Linked DNA regions of Homo sapiens. The protein of the gene in region 1 interacts with the protein of each later gene in a pairwise test. Each region holds a gene or a part of one and is shown on either strand. Other genes may lie near its edges. The genes, in order: ZNF518A and ATF7IP.

What was found.
Region 2: the proteins of ZNF518A (region 1) and ATF7IP interact in a two-hybrid assay, tested with the Homo sapiens proteins (one large-scale study listed by IntAct).

The regions. Positions count from the first base shown.
Region 1 is NC_000010.11:96,161,183-96,164,476, reverse strand, and holds the end of ZNF518A (zinc finger protein 518A), read right to left. Parts: 3' UTR 718-3,294; downstream 1-717.
Region 2 is NC_000012.12:14,428,142-14,431,972, reverse strand, and holds part of ATF7IP (activating transcription factor 7-interacting protein 1), read right to left. Parts: intron 1-3,831. UniProt on the Homo sapiens protein: Recruiter that couples transcriptional factors to general transcription apparatus and thereby modulates transcription regulation and chromatin formation. Can both act as an activator or a repressor depending on the context.

The DNA.
Region 1 (3,294 bases):
AGGAAAAAGTTTCCACTAATGCCATACTCTGCTAACTAGCAACAAATACCACCCTGAAAAATCCCCCCAGTAAGTTTTGCTAGATGAGATCCCCAATGGGTCAAGGTAGTATGCTGAGAGCAAGGATCCTAACAAGTTGCTAAGGCAAAGAACAGAGCCAACGCCCCAAATGGCTCTGTTAAGAAAGTTAAGGAAGGAAGTAGATGTCAATGGTGAAAAGGAATCTTATTTTTAAAAAATCAAGATAAGCTGTATGGAATTAGTATATAATATTCTGTTTTTAATTCACCTCCATTTTCTCCCACCCCAAGAACTTCTATTACTTTTTCTTAACAGCTATTTCAAATCACTGAAAGAATATCTAAGTCCTTTTCCCATCTAACCTGGACATAAATTCTCACAGCATTTCTGCTCTATCTCATTTTTAATCCCTTCATAAGTTGCACTACTCTTAGCACACAAATGACCTATTTTACCCACTAACCATTTTCATTACATTTACAGTCTCTTCACTGTTATACAAATACATCTATACTAGAAACTTTATATACATATTTTAGTTCGTACTTTGTAGCTCTTTTACACAGGTGAGGTACATCACGAAACTTATCAAGCTTGTTTTTTTAAATAAAAATCCCATTCTGAAAGCAGACTCTAGGGAATTCAAGCAACAGTCAGTAAACTATGTCTGGTGGGCCAAATTCAGCCCACTTCCTGTTTTTATAAATTGTTTTATTAAAACATAGCCACACTAATTCATTTACATATTGTCTATGGTTTTTTTCTGCATTATGAGAATTGAGTAGTTAGGACAGAAACTAGAAGGCCTACGAAGCTTATTTATCTGACCCTTTATTGAAAAAATTTGCTAACCCCCCAATGAAAATATTTTCCATTAAAAAAACTATTACATTTCAATTTGTGTTACTGAATACTTAGCAAGATAAATTCTTTGAAAACTGAATTATGTTTTTTAAGTACTTGCCAAATAGTAAGAAACCCATTTCAGTGGAGATGGACAAACTAGAAAAAATAAAACAAATTCCTCACACAGAAATTCAACTGCAAAACTAAAACTAACTCTTCAATTGTAATAAGAACCTCGAACTACTGAAAATCATATTTTGGAAAGCCCTCTTTGGAAAGCCACACACAAAAAATAAAGGATACAGGCTTTTGTTTTGGATTTTCTGCAATGGCAATAATGAAACTCTAAGCAGGTCTGCCTCCCTCAGAATAACTTAAGTTAACAAAATCAGAAAAAGTTCCAACTAGAATATCTGGAGCACAAAGCTTACTTTAAATGGCTGTTAAAACTTAAAGGCAAGAAGTACATATCTCGACATTATTTTCCTGATATGGCTATTCTGAAATGTAATGTTATAGTGCTGCGAATATTAGCAGGAAAGTTCCTTCTCTCTCCTTGCTATTTACAGCAGGTGATGTCTCATAACAGATCTATATGTAACAAACAGAGCATTTTAATTTTATTGCTGTTAGGGTACTGAAGACTATAAGCCTCTCTATGGCTCACCTTGCCAGCATAACCATAGTAAAATTATGGTATATGTTACCTTTCTTAAACAATATATCATCTATGATTTTGGGAAGAAAAAAAATCCCACACTTTTATCTATCTTGTAGAGTTAACTAGCATTGAAAAAACACATACACTTTAAAATCTGTATTTCCTAGAGAACAAAATTTCCATCAGATTTTAGCACAGTAAAAAAATTATTGTGTAAACACAAACAAGATAAATTTAATTGAAAATGTTCATTACAGAAATTAACAATGCTTACCATTCTTTAAACACCATGTACATTATTAATATATACTGTATATTTCCAATTAACTCCATTCTTAGGCTCAATTTAAGAAACACAATTGTAACATTTTATACAAAAAATACTTCACTAAGAAAGTAGACAAACTGCACAAAACAGTACAAGTATAATGTGCATAGCAAGATAGCTTGAAGCATTCTATGTATGGCTTTCTTTAAAAATAAAACTATTAGGGGAATGGGCCCATTTGGGACCTACTGTTACAGTTGACATATGTAAACTGTTTCACATCTTTTTTAGGCACTTGCTAACAATAGTGTTCAATCCCTGAAGAACGAATTTACCTCAAAAACAAAATCTACATCTGAAATAAAAACCAAGAAAATAACATGGGTAAAGTCTTATATATTCCTTTTAAATTAAACAACCAGTTTTATTAGTGCATGCACTGAACTAAACTGAAAGAAAATAAACTTATGCCAAAAATTTCTGTGCAAAATTTACATAAAAGGTACAAAAATATGTACAGACTTAATTTGTTATATACAGAAAAGAAGCCCTGAAGTTTTCATCCATTAATGAAAATGTCATTAACACTTGTAACAATGTAACAAAAAATCATATAGCACGTAATTTGTTAACACAAGAACTCCATTATCCAAAGAACCAGCAAAATTTGATCCAAACTTACAAGGTGAAAAATCTAAATCTATGATTCTGTTGTCATCATGAAAACATCCATTTTAAAACTCTGTTGGGCATGTCCCTTAGGAATCTATCCTAAGGTTTTATGCACTGCCTCTGGGTCCACTATTGATGCTTCCTTTTGCAAATGCCAACAATCTGTATATATGTTTTGGGTTGTCAGTCACACTGAGAAGCAGCTAACAGAAATGCTTTGTCCTAATTTGGACATGTTCAAATAATAAAGTGAATACAGACAAAAATATGATCTTGCTTCAAAATACTGTTTTGGTAAACAATTTTAATTTTCAAGAAAAGCCACTCCCTTGGAAGTGCTCCTATGTTCCACTCTTTTTAAAGGGATGGGAACCAAGAAGAAAAAAATGGCCATTTGTTTATGGAGGACAAACATGAGATAAGCATAGTTCTGTGCAAAGGGATCATCAGAGAATATAATCAAATTTAGAAATATGTTCAAGTTCTTTAACCAAACTTTCAATGAGACAAAGAGTTTAAATTCTTCTCTTGAAGCTGCCCATCTACTGCAACATTTGACACAGTCACTTAGAAAAAGAAAATCACCTTGGGAGAGTGTTCCCAATCTCTAACAAGTGACAGAGTTCAACTGGAAAAAAAATTTACTTGCCAAAAACTCTTCAAGCATTGTATGAGGTGTAACTGTAGTGAGTTAAATGTACTTTCAAGGAGCCTAATATCCTTCAAAATAACTATATTTAGCAGATATAGAGTGACTTCTTTACCCAGGTTCTCTCAAAGTATCTTCACAAATGTGAGAAACTCCTTCAGTTCTACGATGAAAGAG
Region 2 (3,831 bases), on another chromosome or scaffold:
TTCACAGAATTAAAATAGAGTTGCTAGAGTTTTTTGTAACGGAAAGAACTTGGGATTTAAAAAATGGTATTAACAAATTCTACAGAGACGGGTAGGGCCTTATATTTCTTTAATTTTATTTTGTCCACAAAGCCTGAAGAAAAACTAAGAATGGGTCTCCTTCAACCCAGAGTAATAATCAAAGGCCCTTGGTACACAGACAACTTTAGACATAATTTCAGGTAGTTCCTGGGACTCCTGAAACTCATCCAAATAGTAGGTTAACAATGTCTTTTTTACTGCCGGGTGTGGTGGCTCACACCTATAATCCCAGCACTTTGGGAGGCCGAGGCGGGCGGATCACAAGGTCAGGAGATCGAGACCATCCTGGCTAACATGGTGAAACCCTGTCTCTACTAAAAATATAAAAAATTAGCTGTATGTAGTGGTACATGCCTGTAGTCCCAGCTACTCGGGAGGCTGAGACAGGAGAGTCGCTTGAACCCGGGAGGCGGAGCTTGCAGTGAGCCGATATCGCACCACTGCACTCCAGCCTGGGTGACAGAGCGAGACGCCATCTCAAAAAAAAAAAAAAGAATGTTTTTTTTAGAATCTGTCCTTACTTACAGATAAGTTTCTGTTATAATTCCTTTGATTTTCTTGAGGATAAGGCTATAGCCTTATCACAATTTGGCAAGTTTTCATAGTTCCATATTCTTTCCTTTCAAGCAGACTAGACAGTAAGCTCATTAAGGGCAGATACCAGATCTCATAATTTTGGTAATCCCAAACACTTTGAGAAATAGCTGAGACAAATTACATGTTTAATACTATCAGATGACTACTATCTTTAATAAGGTTCCATTAAGTAAAGGTAGAAAACTGTGTTTTTAAAGGATTACAAAATAGAATTTACATTAGGGGACTTAGTTTCCCATTTCAGAATTATACTTTATAGAACTTTATTCTAAGGAAAAATGGAGGACAAAAACCATTGCCTTAGATAAGAGATTGGCAAATCTTTTTTGTAAGCGGCCAAAAAATAGATATTTTCAATCTTGTGGGCCACATGACCTCTGTCTGACACAACCTCTTAATTCTGTCCTTGTTGCAGGAATCAGCAATAAGTGCTATGTGACATGTAAACAAATAAGTGCAATAAGTGCTATGTGACATGTAAACAAATTACCATAGCTATGTTTATGTAAATAAAACTTTATTTACAAAAACAGGGCTCACAGGCCAGTCTACCCCATTCACTGATTTAGATTACTGGCTCCATGAAAATATTTGTAACAAAACAAGAAATTCCTACAGACAAATTAAAGACAATATCCATTAGAAAAATGGGCAAAGGAGATGAACAGGCAATTCACAGATAAGGAACTATAAAAGGCCAATAAACATATAAAGATTCTCAACCTAACAAGATCTATCAGAAAAATAAGGCATGACTGGTAATGTGACTTTTCCAGACATTTTGTATTAGTTTTATTTAACCAATACAGAATGGCAAATAATATCTCCTATGTGAATTTTTGTGCTCTCTTTAAAAGCAAAACCTAGCGGGGAAAGTCCCATTGTATTATCTCCAATTCTTCCCCTCCCATTCTCTCTGAAACCCAAATCAGGTTTTCCACTCCACCATTCACCAAAACTGCCCCTTGGTAAAAGTCACCAATGATCTCCAGATTGTTAAATACTTCTCTTCCATCTTATGAGCACACACAGCAGCATTTGATATAGTAAACGGTTACCTTATTCCCTCCTCAAAACAGTGTTTTTACTTGGCTTCTGAAACACCAAAATCTCTGAAACACCAAAATCTCTCCATTTTCTTCCTACCTCAGGGGCTGCTCTTTCTCAGCTCCTTTGTTGGTTCTTCCTTATCTCCCCAACCCTAAACACTGAAATGCCAAAAGCACAATTCTTGGATCTTTTCTCCATGTATACTTACTCTGAGGTGATTTCATCTTGTCACCTAATAGCTACATGCTACCTACTATATTTTTCTAATACAAGTCAAGTCTCTGATCTGAAATCCAGACTTACACATCTAACTTGGACAACAGTACTCATTTGAAAAATGATCTTCCTCCTATACACCTCCTTCCAAAATCTACTTCATCTTTGGTCTTCCTCAACTCTGAAAAGAAAAATCTGCAACTTGCACACTAGTGAATAGAACTAAGAAGCTCCACAAAGAGAAGCCAAGTACATAAGTAACAGCTAAATATAAATGGATTGAGATGATAAAGAATTTTAACTGAACACAATAAACAGTGACAACAAATTAACAGTAAATTGACTAAATCATGCCAATTCTATCAATACTAACCTACAGCAAAAATAGAAGGAAGTCTCAAATTCTAGTCTAATGTAATTATCCTCATTAGCATCAGTTTATGTTTATTTTATTTACCTTAAAGATCCAATGAACAAGGGGAGGAAAATATCAACCACAGATTTTTATTTTAATCTGAAATAAAATCTGCAAGGAAACTATGTCAGTGTTTAATGCAAAAAAAATCTAGTTCACTCTAAAACAGATTTTTCTCTTCAAAAATCTTATGTTTAAGAAAAAAAAGCACGTGGAGGAGGCCTATCCCTATTTTTCCACAAGAAATAGAATGAGAAAGGCCAAAAAAGAAGGGAAGATGGAGAATGCAGTAACCCAACAGCTAAGGGGAGTCTCAAGAGGGAAGAACTGTTATTAAGAGGTCATCCAAGTATGGAAGAATAGATAAGACAAAGAAAAGATGTCCCCGGATTTAATAACATGATCATCAATGTCATTTCACTGAGAAAAATTAGGAGGGCGGCAGCTACCAAGGCAGAAATCAAAATCCAATTAAGTGGAAGGCCTAACAGAAGAAGAAATGGTCCTAGCTTTGTTAATATAACTTGAAGAATGGCACTAAAAGAAAGGAAAGAGATGAAATAGTAGTTAGAGGAAAGTATATGGTATGGCGATGAAGCTCCTCTAGTGTTTGAACTTTCCCAGAGAGATAAATCTTTATTTTGCTATCCTCTTTAAACAGATTATCATTTTAATAATTAGTGAGTATTAGTTATAACATAATACTATGTCACAATTCAGTAATGTCTCTAGACCTATTAAGGTATATATGCAACACTTTTTTAGTTCTTTCTTCTACTTTTGTAAAATTAAAATAGCTTTTCTATTTGCTTTATCTTTCATTATTTCTTGTTGCTGCTGATACACATCACAATTGCTTTATTTAAAACATATTTGCTCAACAAGTGCCTGAAATGACAGAAGGTTATGCTATTTTCCTTTTACTACACTCATAGATGTTAGTAGCTAGAAGGAAGAGCCAGTACTGAAGCCAACTTTAGTACTTCAGCTAATAATTCTGTGTTCTGAGTATATTAAAAATTAGTCAAGAATAAAGGCATTTATTTAAGTAACATTTCAACAGGAGTACAGCAACATAAATGACATGCAACAGATTCTGTCGCCATATAAAGAGAACAGAGTACAGTTTAAGAACCAATTAAGAAACTATTCTTAAACTCAAAATACACAAAATTACCTTCAGAGGAAGGGGAAAAGATACAAAATAAAAGTTTAGTTATGAGCCAAGAAATTAAATCTATCACTAAATTTACCCTGCTAATAGCATACCATCAGATTAAAGGCAAGTAACCAAAAATATTCCCAACTTTGAATTTTCAAAGTATGCAACATGGATGGCTTAATATTCATCTCTCAGCACTTAACTGCCTTGTGTGGGATGCCCTCCAATATCAAGATTCTGACATAAAGGTACTCATTAAATCATAAGCTGCAATTTGCTTTTTTAACTTTCTTATACAGACTTTTTTTTT